2 separate regions of the Homo sapiens genome follow, and region 2 is linked to region 1. A link means that fine-mapping ties the variant in region 1 to the expression of a gene that starts in the linked region. Tissue or cell type: whole blood. Region 1 holds a variant in brackets; the other region holds the start of a gene. All regions are shown on one strand. Distances are between the middles of the regions.

Region 1 (10,685 bases):
TCTTATCTATAGCATAGTATCAAAACCAAACAATTGACATTGGTACAATCCATAGAGTTTATTCACATTTCACCAGTATACATGCACTTGGGTGTATGTCTGTATGTAGCTTTTTGTAGTTTTATCATATGTGTAGCCCATTTCCATAGTCAAGATACTCATCTATAACATCCTAAGATTCCTTTTTATTACCCCTTTATAGCCACAACCCTCCCCTGGCCCCTGGCCCCAACCCCTGGCAACCTCTTATGTGTCCCTTGTTTTGTAATTGTCTCGTAAATGGAATAATGCTATATGTATCCTGTTGAGATTGGCTTTTTCACTCAGCATAATTTTTTCTTGGGGTTCATCCAAGTTGTTGCATATATCGGTCATTCATTTTTATTGCCGAATAGTATTCCATGGCATGCATGTGCCACAGTTTGTTTAACTGTTCATCCATTGAAAGACATTAGTGTACTTTGCAGGTTTTGGCTGTTATCAACAAAGCCACTGTGAACATTTGTTTCCCACATCTGTTAATGAAAATTTTCACATACAGTTTAATGTTGTCATTAACCTTGGTGTTCTATGTTGGAATGTTTTCACTGTAAACTGTATTTAAGCAATAATACGTACCCATTTTTTTCTTTCATTATTTTTATATATCTGTGAATTAAATATGAAGAAATAGTTTTTATTTTTTGTTTTTTTTGGGGGGACAGGTTAATTTTAATGAATCTTATTATTTTATGATTTTATCATATGACTTTTATATAGGTAGGGAAAACTGGGACTTCGTCTACTCAGGTCAGTCATTGGACACCTTGGTTGTTCTGATTCATTGCTTGATACTCTTTTCAGGAGTGATTACCACACTTTGGAATATTAAATATATATATTAGTGATGTTTAGGAGGAAAGATTATGACTGATGAAATTTGTTGAATAAAGTGTATGTGGTAAACATTTGTGTGTCTATCCTTTGTTTAGGAAGTCGAGGCTCAAGAGGTTCTCAAATTGATAGTCACAGTAGTAATAGCAACTATCATGACAGCTGGGAAACTCGAAGTAGCTATCCTGAAAGAGATAGATATCCTGAAAGAGACAACAGAGATCAAGCAAGGGATTCTTCCTTTGAGAGAAGACATGGAGAGCGAGACCGTCGTGACAACAGAGAGAGAGGTTTGTCAAACAGAATTTTATTAAATAGTGAACAATATCAATTGGGCGAATTGTTTTTTCAAACAGTTACCAATTTACTTTTTAATATAAAATATACTTTAAGGCTTGTGCTCGATGACACATTTGAAACTATTATATATACTCATATAATCTTTGTTCACATGGTTTAGGAGGGATTATGTCAATAGCTAGTGACCAGTACCTACTGGCAACAAAGTGCAAAAACTTGGGTGCCCTACTGTGTGTTTCTCATCTTACCCAAATAGCTTACAAACCTTTAAAGAATGTAGATGGTTGGGTTCTATTCCAGGCAATTCTGATTCAAGAAATACCTAAACCTTTACATCTGAGTATCCTGTCTACTCACTCATTTGCTATGATCAATAGAATTTTATAAGGACTTCCAGAAAGGAACAGTAAAAAAAAACTGAATGATAGGGCTGGGGATTGTTTAGAGAAATATTTTATTTGTATTCTGTCCTGAGAAGATATGGTATTTGCTTTAGCTAATTTTACGTTCTTATATGTCTTAAGCTAAAACTTTTTCTGTTCATCTATCAGGTGATCTCTTAAATGAATTTTGAAGCAAGATTACTAGGAAGCACTTAAGAAGGGTTGTAAATACTTTCTTTGGCAAGCTTTTATTTCTGTACTTATTAGGGCCTTTAAACATTAAAAATTTTATGAAGGTCTTACTAACCTTGGCTGAAGTAAGGTTCACTATAATGCTGAGATTAATATAGCATGAAACTTGATGGCCCAGAGAATTGAATATTGATACTTTACTATGGGCTGAATCAAAGAGGTAATATTATATCTTGATTGGTTAGTAGTGGGAGAAGAATAAAGTTTCTAAGGCATCATCTACTTTTGGGAGCATAGATAGGATCAGAAGTAGGAGAATTGATTAGGTTGAGTTTATAAGGTAAGCCTAATGCATTTTGGTTAAAAGATGTGTAGAATTTCCTTAGTTACAGATAGGGCTGGAGTTTCTATGTTCTGTGTTGATATCTGAAATTTTTTCTTCCCTGGGACTTTTAGAACTGGTGATGCTTTTTTTTAAATTTCTTTTTTCCTTTTTTTCTATTTTCATATCCTTGCTCAGATTTTTCTCATCTCATGCCTGAATTCAATAGTAACATTTGGTTTCAATCTTATGGTTAGTTCAACCACATGTATTGATCTTCTACTAGGTGCCAAGAACTTTGATAGTTGCTTTACATATATTCTGACTTAGTCTTTACAATATCCTTGTAAGTGTAGGTATGATAAAATAATTCATGTTTTCACAGTTTTGGGGATTAGATCTAAGAGTAGTAAGATTACAATATTATAGAGAAGTAGGTTCCAGAGCTGGAATTCAAACTCAGGTCTTCTGACCAGAAGTTCAGTTCTCTATTTTAATTTTACTGTAACTACTTCAATAATTATGAGATGTATGATTGAAATAAAAATATATTTTGGAGGCTAATGAATATTTTACAAATATTTGTTGAGTACCCATGTCAGGCACTTTGCTAGGCACTTGAGGTACAATAATTTCTTGTCCTTGTAGAATTTAATGGGGAGAGGGAAGAACTCCCCACCCAAAAAAACAAAGTGTGATAAAATGCTACTACTGTATATAAAAGTTCTGTGAGAAGACAAAGGAGCAAACACAATTCTGAGCAATTCCAAGAAAGCTGCCTAAAGAAGTGACATCTGAATTAGGGCCTGAAGAATAAAAGGAAACTATAGAAGGAGCACTTTACAGGGAGAGGGTGCAGCATGTACAGACACCAGAACTGAAAGAAACATGTGCTTTGGAGTAGTAAGGAATTATGAGATTGGAGTCAGAGTATGCTATAATTGGCAAGGTAGAAAAGAAACCAGGGAAAAGGACTGATGAAAGACTATAGGCCAGGTAGTAAATGACCTAAGTTTAGCCTAGTCAGGCTAAAAAATTTGATTTTAATTGCCTTTCACTGCCTACAAGATAACTACTTTTAAACAGTTGGAAGAAATAATTTTCATCAAAAACATATTAAGGGTGTTGGGAAAGATTGAAAACAAGGATACCAATTAGTTAGACTGTTGATGACATAGGCATCTAAGAAGACCTGATCAAGGTCTGAGTTAATAACTATAGCTATGGGGACAGGAAAAGGAACAAAGAAATATTTTAGAAGTGAAGTTGATTGTACTTGGATATGATGAGGCTTAGACAACCCAGAGATTGTCAGCTTTAATGAATTGGTATGTCATTTATTAAAATAAGGAAATATGTAAGTAGAAGCACATCTTTGAATAACACATTTTGGGGGAAAGATAGGGGAAGATAATTTAGACATTTTAAAGTGATGTTCTTATATTCTTTCCATTTTCCTTTGAAGAAAGTAGCATTGATATTTTGGTTGGGAAAATACATCTCCCATAAAAGCATGTCTGAATAGTCTATTTGCTGATATTGCTGTAATTAGAAATTTAAAGTATGATTTGCTATAAGTTAATGGTATTGAATTTGTTTCAGGTTATCTTGTAATGATTATGATGTTGGTATGACTCCTCCAAACCAGGAATTCAGACAATACAAAAGATGGGTAGATAGCATTCTAGGAATCCAAAGTATGGTACAGAAGAACCACTTTAAGTTGGTTTCAGCAAAAGTGAAAGGGTTTAAGAAAACTGACTTCTAATGCATCTACCATCTCTGTGACATTGGGAAGACAACTCTGGACCATAATTTCTGTTTTTAAATAGAAAGGGGGAGAAGCAACTGTGTAGGATTTCATTTTGATTCAGCTTTAAAATGCTATGATCATTTGTATCTGGGTCTATAACCTCTAAAATAGTAAAGATAAGATAATTCTTGTCTTTTCAATCAGTGATTAGGAAGGGAAATCCAGAATACTGTATTGAACCCTTCCTAGAAACATCCTAAAATTGTTCTGCTTAATGAGTTGATGTTAGATGTTCCACTTACCAACCTGTTGGCCTGATTATAATATGATCTTTATCAAAAACCAGTAGATATATAGTATGTAAATGGAAACATCACAGTATCCTAGATCAGACCGCAGTAGTTGCTTTCAAAAATGGCTGTCTCTTTGAAAAAGTTCATGCCATCCTCTTAAACGTTTTTTTATCCCAGACTAATTTTCTGCTCAACTGGGTATTTGGGCAGCATGCATTCATTTACTCTGTGTTTATGTGATTTGTGTGTACATGGAAAAAATTTATATAAAATGTGATGAGGTTATCAGTTAACATTTTAAGAAAACAGCTCTTCATCTGAGTAATCATTTATGTAATTAAAGCTAATTTATTAGTAATTGGTTATTAATTACAAATATATATCACTAATATGAAACACTTTTTACATTTATTTCAAGATTGCTAGACATCAGTACCCTTAATATTACAGTTCATGTTATATTGCAGCAACAAATTCTGACATATGTTTTGTTCTACTATATTTTCCTCACATAATAGCTGCACTTTGATGTGTATATATTTTGGCCTGAA[A/G]TTAGAGGTGTGACTTACGAGGGAAATTTTTTTTTTCCTTCAGCTCCTATGTTCTACACCTCCTGCTGCCCCTATCCTTTGCCACCAGTGTTCTCAGGTCCTGCTGGGGGGACAGAGAAGATCAGAGGTGAAGGGTAGAGATGGCAGAAAGTGGGGTTGGAGCAGTGGGCTGGAGGTAGGGTAGGGAGCATGCAGAGAAAGATCAAAGATTGATCAGTGGGAGGGGGGAAGGGGGTTGACGGGGAGCAGGAAACATGGTCGTTAGAGGGCAAATAAAAATTATCTTTAAAAAATTTAAGGTCTAGGGGCGATTGTTACTTGGATATTAAGTTAAAATTAAATATGCTACTTGGTTTGTAATTTGTTGCCAGTGTGACCCTATCACAGATAAAATTTAAGATTTACCATGCTGTCTTACCAATAGGTTATCTGTCAAATTAATCACTGACAAAACTTGATTTTCATTGTAGATCAAAGACCAAGCTCACCAATTCGACATCAGGGAAGGAATGACGAGCTTGAGCGTGATGAAAGAAGAGAGGAACGAAGAGTAGACAGAGTGGATGATAGGAGAGATGAAAGGGCTAGAGAGAGAGATCGGGAACGAGAACGAGACAGGGAGCGGGAGAGAGAGAGGGAACGTGAACGGGATCGGGAAAGAGAAAAAGAGAGAGAACTAGAAAGAGAGCGTGCTAGGGAACGGGAGAGAGAAAGAGAAAAAGAGAGAGATCGTGAAAGGGATAGAGACCGAGACCACGATCGAGAGCGGGAAAGAGAGAGGGAACGAGACAGGGAAAAAGAACGGGAACGAGAAAGAGAAGAGAGAGAGAGGGAGAGAGAGCGAGAACGGGAGAGAGAGCGAGAGCGAGAACGGGAACGAGAAAGAGCGAGAGAAAGGGATAAAGAACGAGAACGCCAAAGGGATTGGGAAGACAAAGACAAAGGACGAGATGACCGCAGAGAAAAGCGAGAAGAGATCCGAGAAGATAGGAATCCAAGAGATGGACATGATGAAAGAAAATCAAAGTAAGAATAATTATCAGTTATTAATAACATTTTACATTTCAGGAAAGAATTCAAAGTTTCATTTAATGCTTTTCAATATACTCTTAATTTCCTGTTAATTTTTTTTCTCTGTATATTTTCCTGTTTTTCAAATTTAGTATATGTATCGGTGTTTAAAGTTTTTTTACCCAGCACTTTGGGAGGCCGAGGCAGGCAGATTCCTTCAGGCCAGGAGTTTGAGACCAGCCTGGGCAACATGGCAAAACTCCATCTCTACAGAAAATACAAAAATTAGCCGGACGTGGTGGCACGTGCCTGTATCCCAGCTACTTGGGAGGCTGAGATGGGAGGATTGTTTGAACCTGAGAGGCAGAGGTTGCAGTGAGCCAAGATTATGTCATTGCACTCCAGCCTGGGTCGAGACCTTGTCTCAGGAAAAAAAAAAAAAGTTTTTTCAGTTGTCTAGAAAAAATAATTTTTAAATTAAGACAGGAATCAGTGAACTTGTATCCCATCACATCCCCTAGACTAGTCACCAAGGGATATCACCTGTGCCATTCTGATGATCCTTCATGACTTTTATGTGCTTGTAATTATGGAGTCACTACCCCCAGGCTACAGGAAGCATTCACAATGTCTTGGAACTGAGGGAATCCTTGTAATCACTGCATGGTTCGAAGATGAGAGAAAAGGAAGTGTCTTCTCTTGTGCTGTGGAGTAGTTCTTTGGGGTCAAAAAATGTGTTCTTGGCATCTGATATACCTAAGGGCATTCTCCCACCTCACCCCCTTTTAACCAGAAAAGAACTTATTGCTCAAATATCTAGGAAGTTGGAGATTAGCTTTTGCTTGTTCTGATGTGGCTATATCCAGATTCTCAAACAAAGCATTAGCAGTTTCCATCTCTCCAGTTTCCCTCTGTATTAATTTCAGTCTCAGAAAGGTTTTCTCCATATGATGGCTAAGATGGCCCCAGAGTTGTCCCTGTCAGCTTAGCAGTCCTCTCTGAGTTGGGGCTCTCATTAGTTGGTGAGGAGACAGTTATTGACTAAGCTGATCACAGTGTTCATGAGAATTCTAGACTCAGATTGGTCAATTTTGAAGTTCTGTGGGCACAAAACCAAACTTACTAGAGTTAACTACTTTTTTGCCTCCAACTGGGATAAACACTGTGGTTTACCTTGCCAAAACATACTGAGAAAATAATTTATGTATCTTCAATTTTCTTGCTCTTACCTCCAACTCATTTGCCACAGGGCGAATACAGGGTCCCTGCTTTAGGCTTTTTTCATCCTCACTATTGTGGATTATGGTTAGGGCCAAACAACACAGCACAGAAGTAGAACTTTCTTCCCTTAGGTCTTGGCTGTTCTTTAATCTACAGCCATGGTTTTCTGTAGTACACTCCTTGGATTACTTTCCTGCTTCCCTCTCCTTACATTTTGAAAAATCTTACCTGAACATAAACTTCAGAGATACCTTTTTTAACACATGGAGGCACAGGTACATATTCCCACCCTCCCCACCCGCTACTTTTCTGACCTCTTTATTTTCTAAGATTAAAATTCTGAAATCTTTGTTATTTATCTTTTATTCAGTCCTCTGCTTTCATTAGTACAGATTGAGCATCCCAAATCCAAAAATTCAGAATTTGAAATGCTCCAAAATCTAATGTTTTTTAAACACTGACATGGCACTCAGAGGAAATGCTCATTGGAACATTTCAGATTTTCACATGAAGGATGCACAACCAGTAAGTACAATGCAAATATTCAAAACCTAAAGCATTTCATGGATAAGGGATACGCAACCTGTATTTTTTTCATGCTTCTGATATCTGCTTATAATAGCAAAAGTTTTTCTGGTTTTTCATGGTTAGACAATCTAAGAGTTGACAATGACCCCAGAAATTTAGAAGTTGAATAACTCTATAACAGAAACTAATTACATGAGATTAATATCTTAATCTTTCATTAACTGTATTGTCATCTCAGTAGTTCAATTTATCCAGCACTTTTTTTAACTGCTCTTATGTAGAACGTTTGCCTAATTGCTGTATTTATTTTACTCTAATTGTGTTTATTTAGGTATTTCCTTGAAATAACTTTTTCTCATGTTTTAAATTTTCACTTTATTCCAGTCTGTCAGTTATCTCTTGATATATAACACATCACCACATAAGTTAGTAGCTTAAAACAACAACCATTTATTTGCTCATGATTCTGTGGATTGGCAGTTTTGCCTGGGCTCAATAGAGTGGTTGTTCTGTTGGTCTCACTTGGAGTAACTCCTGTATCAACATTACATCTGACAATGCAGCTGGGCCTGGAGGCCCAGGATTGTCTCATTCATGTGTCTGGCAATTAGGGCATCTTGTTTCTCCTCCACTTGACCCCCTGGCCTTCAGTAGTCTAAACTCTGCTTTGCATGTAATGGTAGAAACAACAAGAGGGCAGAAGCTGAAGCAGCAAGGCCTCCTGAATCCTCTTCACATTTGCACAGTGTCACTTTCACCACATTCTCTTGTCATAGCAAGTCATTAGATATGAAAAATGGGGAAATAGGCCAGTTATTGATGGGAGAGGAGCTTTGGATAAAGTAGTACACAAGCTTGGGCCTGTGAGTTGTCATATTACACCTGGGGCCTTCTCCACATGGTTGTTCATCTATATAAAGGAGCTGTCTATGATATACATGTGCTGGTATGTTTTTGTTTTATTTTTATTTCAATAGCTTTTAGGGTACAAGAGGTTTTTGGTTACCTGGATGAATTCAGAGATTTTAGTGCACCTGTCACCTGAGTAGTCCACATTGTACCAAACATGTACGTTTTTATCCCTCACTCCCCTTCCACCCTCCCCCTTCTGAGTCTCCAAAGCCCATTATATCACTCTGTATGCCTTTGCATACTCATAGCTTAGCTCTCACTTACAGGTGAGAACAAGTTGCTGCAAAAGACATTATTTTTTTCCTTTTTATGGCTGAGTAGTAGTCCATGGTTTCATGGTGTATATATACCACATTTTCTTTATCCACCCATTGGCCAATGGGCACTTAGGTTGGTTCTATATCTTTACAGTTGTGAATTTTGCTGCTATAAACATATATGTGCATGTTTTTTTTTTTCATATAATGACTTCTTTTCCTTTGGGTAGATACCCAGTAGTGGGATTGCTGGATCAAATATCTCCTTTTAGTTCTTTAGGGACTCTCCATACTGTTTTTCATAGAGGTTGTACTTATTTACATACCCACCAGCAGTGAATAAGCATTCCCTTTTCACCATGTCTATGCTAACATCTCCTGTTTTTTTTACTTTTTAATGGCCATTTTTGTAGGAGTAAGGTGGCATCTCATTGTGGTTTTTAATTTGTATTTCCCTGATGATTAGTGATTTTGAGCATTTTTTCATACGTTTGTTGGCTGTTTGTATGTCTTCTTTTGAGAAATGTCTATTCGTGTCCTTTATCCACTTTTTGATGGGATTATTTATGTTTTTCTTGCTGATTTATTTGAGTTTCTTATAGATTCTGGATACTAGTCCTTTGTTGGATACATAGTTTGCAAACATTTTCTCCCATTCTATGGGTTGTCTTTGTTATTTATTTTGCTGTGCAGAAGCTTTTTAGTTTAATTAGGTTCCATTTATTTATTTTTGGTTTCGTTGCGTTTGCTTTTAGAATCTTGGCCATGAAGTCTTTGCCTAGGCCAGTGTCCAAAAGAGTTTTCCCAGTGTTAATTTCTAGAATTTTAATGGTTTCAGGTTTTAGATTTAAGTCTTTGATCCTTCTTGAGCTGATTTTTGTTTGAGCTGAGAGGGATCCGGTTTCATTCTTTTACATGTGACTTGCCAATTTTCCCACCACCATTTAGTAAATAGAGTGTCCTTTCCCCAGTTATGTTTTGTATGCTTTTGCTGAAGATCATTTGGCTTTATTTCTGGGTTTTCTATTCTGTTCCATTGGTCCATGTATACAATATGTTTCTTAACTTTTGACCATAGTATTTATAAACAAACAATGTTAGTGAAAAAACAGGTAGTCAAATTTTAATGAAAATGGGGGAAAACACTAGAATAATTTAAGTACCCAAGAGATATAAAACGCTACTCATTTAAAGCTCAACTAAGGAACAAAAAATATAATGAACGTATGAATTATTTTATTAATTTGTCAGCAAGAAAGTGATTTCCATGAAGGGGAAAGGAACTAATTTTATGGTGTACCCACAACATATTTGGCACTGGGTTTATGACATAACTAATTTATTCCTTACTGCAATTTTATGAAATGGACTCTCATTTCCCACCCATTCAGCCCCACCCACCATTTTCAGATGAGAAACTAAGGTTCAGTGACTTCAAGGAACTTACTTAAGGCTGCGTAATAACTAATGTAGTTATAAGTTGAACTCATAGCTTTTTTACTTCAAAGCCAATATTAGGTTTTCTCATTCAGCTCTGCAGCATAAGGCATTTTTATATCATAAGAATGCAAAATTGCTGAATGTTTATATCAGAGGGTACATTAATATATTGGTTTCTGTGCTGCATGTTACCACCTTACAGTATTTAAATCTGGCAATTTTCACTTGAGTTATTCTACATGTATAATGAAGAAGAAGAAGAAATGTTGTGTATTTTAAGTTCACAATTCTTAGCAAATGAAGTAAAGAATTTGTATTAAAGACACTGAATATCCTTTGTATGATACACTCTGGCAATATTGCTTTCCTACAATTATATGTTCCAGTTATAGTAAAGAGATACTAGTAAAAACAAAAAAATCTCTTTTTTTGCCCCCTAGAATTTTATAAATTGTGTTTGCTTGTCCAATTTAGGAAGCGCTATAGAAATGAAGGGAGTCCCAGCCCTAGACAGTCCCCGAAGCGCCGGCGTGAACATTCTCCGGACAGTGATGCCTACAACAGTGGAGATGATAAAAGTAAGCAGACTCTGTTTTCTGTCTCTCTATATTCATATTCATTTGTAACCATGAAACCATCCTTTCATACT
Region 2 (9,305 bases), 77 kb before region 1:
AAATTTATCATGATTTGGGAAGTAGAATTAGTCTAATTATGCTTTTTTTTTTTTGCATCACTGCCAGCACACATATATGTTGAGAGCCATTACGTGTAAAATACCTTGTCAATGGATGTTTAAAGAAGCATTAGGTAAAATCCTGCCCTTTAAGAGAATGTGTTATGGTTAGGGAGCTCAACCATTAGCAAATGTTACAAATAGTTGTACTCTAAGGCGACATAGAGTAACTACTAAATACGTGGCACAGACAGTACAACTCACTTCTAACTAGAATATCAAGGGATGGCTTCACTAATGCATTCAGAGGGAAATGCTGAGATAAGTGAGGAGATAAAGTAGTTACTGTCCTTGAGGAATTTACAATCTATTAAGGGGGGGAAAAACTACAAATAATAAAGTGCTGTTGATGTCAAAGATCAGCTACATTTTAGACAGGCATTGAAAGAGGATTTCTATAGGCAGACAGGGAAGGAAGGACCTTCCAAGCAAAGAAGTTGGTGTTCACCATAAGAGGATGCAAAAGTGGAGGGTGATAGCATCAGAAAGTAGATTAGGTTGGCTTCTGAAGGGGTGTGACTGTCAGATAAATTTGTATTTCATTATGTAGACAATGGGGTTACATTAAAACTTATTTTTTGAACAATGAGATGGCATAAAATAATATCCGCTGATAAATCTCTTGAGTTTTTCAAGAAGGTGACAGTGTATACCATGATGCTAGTTCCAATTTCCGAAAAGTTCCAGATAAGTGAGAACTTCAGAATAGATTTGACAAAATGAATATCAACAGACAAAATGAAGTCAAATGGGGGTCTTAGTTATTATCCTGCTCCATACCAGAGGCATAATCTTTTTTGATTTGATGAATCTATGGAAGTCATTAGACATTTTACACAAGAAGAAAATAGAAGTTGTGAGAAGGATAAGAAGTGAGTCATGCATGCATTAGGTGTTTGTATGTGTTTAGAAAGGTTGGATTTAAAGTTTGGTGATAATTTTGTTCAGAAATGGAGTACCTCTAAGCCTTTGAGATGTAGTTATACTTCATTTTCCATAATAAATGAGTTCCCAAAAAGGCATGTGATAATTTTTTTCTGCAAATTAATATATTTATTTATATAAATTATTTCAATATATTGAAATAGTTTATGTTTAAAGCCACCCAATTGTGATTGCCATAAAGTGCACATATTTTAAATTAATTTGTTTACCTTATTTATTTGCCTTTTAGATGAATCTAGATTTTCTACCTGTATACTTTGATTCAATTAATGTATGATTATTTTTTAGAAACTTCTACTTGTCATGTTTCAAAGCTGCACATTAACTGAAATTCTATATCTTGTTGCTTCCAGTCTCTAGTAGCCAGTGAAGCAGTTCGTGCTATTGAGAAAATTAGTAAAAATACCAGGTATACACATGGCCATGGCTCAGAAACCTTATGTAAGTATTTCTTCTTATGATCTTAGAGAACTTTGAGCTACTAAAGAAATCTGTGTGATCTGTTTTTCTTTGTGTATTTAATTTTTCTGAATTAAATAGGGTCACATGTAATACAACTGAATTGTAATAATTAGGAACAGAAGCATAATAGCTATGACAATGCTGAACAAAGCTATATTAATAAATGAGTTACTAAAAAGAAGCCAAAATCCTATTTAAGAAATCATATTTATCACAATCAAGTAGGAATTACAGAATTGGCATCATACTAGTTGAGTGAAGCAGAAAAGTTCATAAAACTTTTGCATGATTCCCAGGGCCACCATGGAAGGTTGTGCAGGTTGTACACTACACTAATCTAGGGCATGCCATTTGCATCAAGTGTTTTTTAGTGTTAGCCTGTTCCCAAGAGTATAGCTCATAACACATTACAGTTGATTGTCTTTAATATATATTACACACACAAAACTTGTGACAAACTCTTAACAAAAAGTTTTGATTAATTTTTGCTGAAAGATATTTAGTGAGTAACTCCTATCTACACACAGTGGGAGGACAGACTGATTTTGCCCTTTTGAAGTTTGAAGGGAGATGGGAAAAGAGGAGCATAAAATAAACCTGTAACCAGGCATCAGAAAACTACAGCCTGAAGGCCAAATCCAGGTTTTTCCTTTTTTTTTTTTTTTTAATGATTAGAAAAAAACAAAAAGAGGCCAGGTGCTGTGGCTCATGCCTGTAATACCAGCACTTTGGGAGGCTGAGGCAGGAGGATCACTTGAGGTCAGGAGTTCGAGACCAGACTGGCCAACATGGTGAAACCCTGTCTCTACTAAAAATACAAAAATTAGCTGGGCATGGTGGCAGGCGCCTGTAATGCCAGCTACTTGGTTGGCTAATGCATAAGAATTACTTGAACCTGGGAGGTGGGGGTGGCAATGAGCTGAGATTGTGCAACTGCACTCTAGCCTGGGTGACAGAGTGAGACTCCATCTCAAAAAAGGTCGAAACTGTATTTATCATGAACACTAAAATATGTACACATTTTAGTTAACATGCATTAAACTGTAACAAGTCTTCTGGCAATTGTAGCTTTCATGAGATGCTTCCCAAACTGTATTAGATAGATGCTAAAATTATAAATTAAAATTTTGGGTCAGACTTTGCCATAAACCTGGACTCAATTTAGCACCCCCCCAAAAAAAGTCAGATTATTCAATTAATGCGGTTGGAAAACCTAACAAGTTACCTAGAAAAAAATTAATTGGATTATTAACATGTCTTTCACCAAAGTAAATTCCAGGTACAGCATATATTTTCATATGAAAACCCTGCATAAACCAAGTTGAAATCTCAGTAAGGAGAAAAAATTCTTGTGAAAGGAGAAATGAATGAAAGGAGAAAAAAAGGTCTACATGCCAAACAAAGCTAATAACACTAATGTCGTTTTTATAAGCAATTGATAAAATGAACCAAGTAGACAAATGAGGAAGGACAATTGATAGGAAATATAAAGATAGCCAATAAATATGCCAAACAAATGTGCAACTCACTGATAATCAAAAAACATAAATTAAGACAGTTGGATATTATTTTTCGCCCATAAAATTATCAGAATTCATAATTCCTATTGATGGTATGGGAAGGGGAAATGGGCAAATTCATACCCTGCTTGTGGAAGTATAAATGAATTCAGTTCTTTTGACGTCCATTTGGGAACATGCCGTAATTGCAAAAAGTACAGAGCCTTAGACTAGCAAATCTATTCTAGGGAAGAATATTCTAAAGAGACAAAGAAGCAATTATGTATAAACAAGGGTACTCATTGTAAAGTTGTTTATATTAGTTAAAAACTGAAAAAAATCTAAAGGTATACAAACAAATAAACATTTAAATCAAACAATTCCCAGTTTGTAAATTAATTTGAAACGTCTGTATTTCAACAATTTCTTTCTTCTTCTTTTAGACCTAGCTCCTGGAGGTGGGGACGATTGGATCTATGATTTGGGCATCAAATATTCGTTTACAATTGAACTTCGAGATACGGGCACATACGGATTCTTGCTGCCGGAGCGTTACATCAAACCCACCTGTAGAGAAGCTTTTGCCGCTGTCTCTAAAATAGCTTGGCATGTCATTAGGAATGTTTAATGCCCCTGATTTTATCATTCTGCTTCCGTATTTTAATTTACTGATTCCAGCAAGACCAAATCATTGTATCAAATTATTTTTAAGTTTTATCCGTAGTTTTGATAAAAGATTTTCCTATTCCTTGGTTCTGTCAGAGAACCTAATAAGTGCTACTTTGCCATTAAGGCAGACTAGGGTTCATGTCTTTTTACCCTTTAAAAAAAATTGTAAAAGTCTAGTTACCTACTTTTTCTTTGATTTTCGACGTTTGACTAGCCATCTCAAGCAAGTTTCGACGTTTGACTAGCCATCTCAAGCAAGTTTAATCAATGATCATCTCACGCTGATCATTGGATCCTACTCAACAAAAGGAAGGGTGGTCAGAAGTACATTAAAGATTTCTGCTCCAAATTTTCAATAAATTTCTGCTTGTGCCTTTAGAAATACAACCATGCATTCCGTTTGCTCCACGGTAATTAGGCGATGGCCCAGAAAGGGGAGGGGTGTCAAAAACGACAAACATAGCCTCTCATTCCAGCTCAGCTGCTCAATAAACACTGTTGAACGAATGAATGAGTGGCTCTAGGTACTGTCAACAAATGCCGCATTTTGCGCATTTACAACAGCTGTTTATGGTAAGGAATTATGTAATAAAAAGAGAAAACTCACTTAAATTCACTTTTAATTGGGAATTTTAGTTCTCCCGGGCTCCCAGTTTCCTTTCCTAGGATCTCTCACAGAGCACAGATTCGATTTCCAAGTCCCGCCGCACTCTTACCGCTCGCATGGAACCTTACGCCTAGAGGGCGTGTCCACGAAGGGTGGTGTCTGCGCACTGACGACTAATCTGACGGCCGGAAGCTGCCTGGGTCTACAGAGGAACAGGGCAAACCTCTGACTTCCGGCGGCATTTTGAGGCGGTCCTCCTAGCGGCCTGGTAGTGTTTTTGTTGCCTTTTCTTAATCTACAATCTCTTCGTTATTTTTCTTCCTGCGACCCAGTTTCGCTTGACCCTGGAGAGGCGGCGGGCGGGTTGGTTCTGCTTCTCAGCCATCCCGGGGGCTCCTCGCTAGCCAAGAGCCGGTTCCCGGGAGCCGCGCGCGCATCGCTTTCTCCTCGTCGTCGTCCTCCTGGGTCCAGGCGCGGGGACAGAGTCGCCTCCCCCGCTCCTCGGAGCGGCGGCGGCGGTGGTGCCTCCGGACTGCACTTGCGAAGGGAGCTTGGGGAGGAAGTAAGCGTTCTGTGAATTGGTGTGGGTATCTGGGGAAGGCATTGAGCGGACCCGTAATGCGGAGGCCCGGGTTACCCCCCCCCGTCTTTGCTTGAGTCACTGGGATTTTGAGCTTTCCTTGAGCATCCCACCCTTAACTCTGCAATAGCCCCCTGTGCTCAGGCGTAATTTCTCACTCTGATTATGATTCTGGCATTTGTCTAAGGGCGATAAGTAGACTCAGACAATAGGCTGTACCCCTCGTTACCATTTGATGTAAGCACGGGAACCCTTGTATGGTGTTCGTATTTGTGTGCGATGGAAGGGTGCAGCAATTTGGGCTTAAATTTAGAATCTTCCTCTATACTCATTCCAGATCTGTTAGAGAAAAACATCTTACTTGTGATTGGTCTTGTTTTTTTTTTTTTCCCTCAGCAGTGATAACGATTTAGGTCCTGGGAATTGAGTGCTACTTTATCTTCACAAGCCTTAGGTAGGTAGTTTTGGCAACTGTCAGAAACGGGGGAAAGTGGAATAGAAAGAAGAGAGTCTGTTTGGCGGCATTATCTCTCTGTAATAGGCTAACGCAATTTATGTGGTTTGAAAATTATTTAGAGTTGATAATACTTGAATTATGTTGGTAAGATGTTGTTTGTGAAGGGTAGTCTTAAGGTATTTGGTTATACTATGGGGCTTTCAGGTAATTCGAACTACTTTGAAAATTATGGGAGTATGAAGTCTCTTAAGATTTTTGGATTTTTAAAGTAGTTTTAAAAATTTGGAAAACATCTTTACACCTCAAGTTTTCGAAGTCCGCGATACCGTTGGAGAATAAATACTTATGCAGTTCAGTCTATGGGTATATGGTGCCAGTTAGCGGGGTCTAGTTCTGTAACATTTGAAATTACTGGCTTTAGTACAATATATTGGAGCGTTTTGTGAATACAATCTATAGATTTTCAAATAATTTTTATTTTCTTAATGAACTATTTAGATTATAACAGATGACAGTTTCAACTAGAGACTAGCAAAGTTGATGCAAGCTTGTAACAATTGCGGCTTTAAAAATAGTTGCACTCTGAAACTAAGGCTTTCACTCTGTGCATCTGGTAGGATTCAGTTTTATCAAATGTATGCCTCTTACTGGCTTCCTGATTACTGGTCATTCTAAATGAACATTGCATATTTTGAGATTTGCAAGCTTATGTGATTTTCATATTTGTAATATGAATTTAACATACTAAAAATCCAGCAAGTGGATGGTATCTTAACATCTTTACAAATTATTAAAATTGTAATATCATCAGTATTTATAATATGCATTGGCATTTACATAGAGGAAACACATTGTTTAACTTAAATTTACTTAGAGAGTTGGTTTTCAGTGGATGATAGTCTTCCTCACCTCCTCATCTCTCCCAACTCCATCTCATATAGAGGTGGAGCTATTTCTCCAGCTGTTAGTAGTAGTTGAAGCATTAACTGCTGTTGATATAGAAAGAGTCTTTTATTCTTTTTTTTTTGTATTTTTGTATGATGCAGTTCTTTTTACTTCACTTTAGAGTAGCTACCAGCATGGGATGTTTTCTGTGCACAGTCTTTTTAACAAATTGTTTTTTCTGCATAGTACTGCAGTGTTGCTTTGCTAATTCCTATGTAGTCAGCTTAGTTCTGTCAGTTGTATTTGGAATTTAGTTTGGAATTGTTTTAGCATTAAATTTACGGAAGCAATCTGAAAGTTTGTTTTAGAAAGTTCTTTTTAAAAAATTCTCTCAAACTATGCATCAAATAAAGTTAATTTTTCTTTCTAAAAATATGAAGTATAAATGTGAAGATACCTTATTTTTAGTATCACCTTTTTAATCTTAGAAATTCAGAGTATAGGGATTTATCCTACTAGTTAGTACATTCATGTAGTTTTAATTGCCTAATTGTTTGAAATTTCCCTAATATTATGCCGCTACTCATCCGGATTAAAGTGTTATGCTTTCACTTATGCTTCCAGTAGATGAGACCTGGAAAAGATAATTAATTATGGATTGAAGTGAAGATACTAGAACGCATATGTGTTTATTGACAAGATTTTATTAATTGAGCTTCTGGAGTCATTATTCAAAAAGAGACCCTTTTGTATGCTTCTCCTTTCTCAGCCATAATTATAATGTGAACCTTCTGAGTACAGTGTTATTCTAAGTTTCTCGGGGCAAGGGAGCAGTTCCCATTTAAGACCCTCTTTTGTTGTGTCTTTATTAATAGACTCAAACTTTGTGTCCCGGATTTTCTTTTTCTTTTTCCATTTTCTTTTTTAATTGAAAAGAGATTATAAAGACTTCAGATATTCATTTGCTCTGCAAATGGAGAGGAGAAATAGGAAAATAACGAAATAGGCTTTCACTAGTGCCACTCTGTCTTTGATAATGCTCGTGTTTGAGAAAGACTTGATGATGTGGGTGGAAGTGTGATGGCAACTTAAACCAAATAATAATTTGAAAACAAAAATGGAGGAAAACCTTCATAGAAGAGTAAATTAGTAAGTTATTGGTATGACCTTGATTTCTATTCTCTATGATAGGAAAGACTTTAGTATTTACATTTTTATCTTATGGTTTCTAATTTTTCTCATATACTTTGAAGCATTTACTTGTCATGTTCAGCCTGTTCATACATAATTTGAAAAAGTTTCCCGCCCCGAAAATCTACATTTTAACTGTTGTGGTGTTCATTTTCCTTTACGGGCCCAAAGTTTTAAATAGGATTGAAAATTCTAATTGTCACATTAGTTGGTAACATTTAGTTTTAATATATGAAAAAGGAAATGTTTTTCTGCTGTATTGTAGATAGTGTGTATATTTTTAGATAAATGGGATTTTTAAAGTTATATATTGTGTTCTTTACAAGCATGAAGCATTTTGTTTATTCAAATTCATGAATGTCTCATTAGTAATATTTAAGTAACATTTTATTGTTGACTACTTGTGGAAGTTTTTACATGGATGATCAGAAGAATTTTTTCAGTTAGAAATCTTCAGTTTCTGCTTTTTTCTTTTTTCACCAGACGTTTTACACACACACATATATATATCACATTAAAGAACATTTTATTAAGAATATGTGTGTGTGTATTATTGTTGTCATTATTCTTGTTTTAAATGTTCAGTCCAGGACCTTGCTGTAACCCAGACCGCATACTCAGATGCTGTATTACTTTAGGACAAAGTATGGTACTCTTGGAGTCTGAGAAAAAGTAGAGTACATCTTTTTTTTTTTTTTTTTTGAGACGGAGTCTCCCTCTGTTGCCAGGTTGGAGTGCAGTGGCGCGATCTCGGCTCACTGCAACCTCCACCTCCCGGGTTCAAGCGATTCTCCTGCCTCAGCTTCCCGAGTAGCTGGGATTACAGGCGTGCACCGCCACACCCAGCTAATTTTTGTATTTTTAGTAGAGACGGGGTTTCACCATGTTGGCCAGGATGGTCTCGATCTGTTGGCCAGGATGGTCTCAATCTCTTGACCTCGTGATCCGCCTGCCTTGGCCTCCCAAAGTGCTGGGATTACAGGCGTGAGTCACTGCGCTTGGCCACATTTTTACTTAATTTCATTTCTTCGCTAAATTGGGAGACTCAGTACAGTAGTAGCTGCAAGTGAAATTCCTGGGATAATTACTATGTAGGTGAATCTTGAATAGTTCTTGATGTCACTGGTAAAAGCAATTTTGTCTCTGTGGAAAGAATATGGGCGTAGGGTGAGGGAGGTGAGGAGGTGGATCATTAGTCTTCACTTGATTGTCTTTCATAGCAAGTCCAACCCTTGAAATCTTCAAAGTTTTTTTTTTTTTTTTTTTTTTTTTGAGGCGGAGTCTCACTCTGTCACCCAGGCTGGAGTGCAGTGGCGCAATCTCGGCTCACTGCAAGCTCCGCCTCCCGGGTTCACGCCATTCTCCCGCCTCAGCCTCCCGAGTAGCTGGGACTACAGGCGCCTGCCACCACGCCCGGCTAATTTTGTTTTTGTATTTTTAGTAGAGACAGGGTTTCACCATGTTAGCCAGCATGGTCTCGATCTCCTGACTTCGTGATCCGCCCGCCTCGGCCTCCCAAAGTGCTGGGATTACAGGCGTGAGCCACCGCGCCCGGCGAAATCTTCAAAGTTTGCCTTAGGGAGTCTAGGATTGGAGAGAAGCTCTCAGACCAGCAAAGCAATAGGTCAAGGGAGGAGAGTAGTGCGAATCAGGCAACAGAGGACAGACCAGAAAAAGAAACTGTAGAGTTAATACCTGGAACCCTCAAAAAGTAAAAAGAAAGGAGATGATAGATGACCAATGTTTTAAGTATAATAAGTACGATAATAAATAGCCTGTCGTCCTAACTGGAAACCATTACCATTGAATTTTTTGAAGGAGACTGAGCTGGGAGTGGAGGCATGTTGGGGGTAGTAGAGATGTTGGGGGCAGAACTAACTCATTTCCAGTGACAGTGGAGGGAAAAATAAAAAATTAGTGTTAGTCCACTTGAGGCAGTGTGGTGGGATG

Evidence for each region. PIP is the estimated chance that this variant, and not a neighbour inherited with it, causes the effect.
Region 2: it holds the start of ZC3H13, and the variant in region 1 is fine-mapped to the expression of ZC3H13 in whole blood (INTERVAL, PIP 0.99).

What each region holds. Positions count from the first base shown.
Region 1 is chr13:45,970,291-45,980,975 of GRCh38, reverse strand. ZC3H13 (zinc finger CCCH-type containing 13) reads left to right here. Exons shown (of 19, transcript NM_001330564.2): 11 at 972-1,163; 12 at 5,138-5,693; 13 at 10,511-10,614. Among named protein-coding and RNA genes, the nearest start is that of ZC3H13, 77 kb to the left of the region's middle. The variant A/G (reference allele first, on the strand shown) is at 4,668.
Region 2 is chr13:46,047,903-46,057,207 of GRCh38, reverse strand. ZC3H13 (zinc finger CCCH-type containing 13) reads left to right here and starts at 4,462. Exons shown (of 19, transcript NM_001330564.2): 1 at 4,462-4,804. It overlaps CPB2 (carboxypeptidase B2), which reads left to right. Exons shown (of 11, transcript NM_001872.5): 10 at 1,359-1,446; 11 at 3,410-4,022. The coding sequence ends at 3,594. CPB2-AS1 (CPB2 antisense RNA 1) reads right to left here and starts at 4,360. Exons shown (of 3, transcript NR_046227.1): 1 at 4,243-4,360. RefSeq lists enhancers at 4,297-4,496, 4,507-4,676, 4,206-4,741, 4,742-5,278.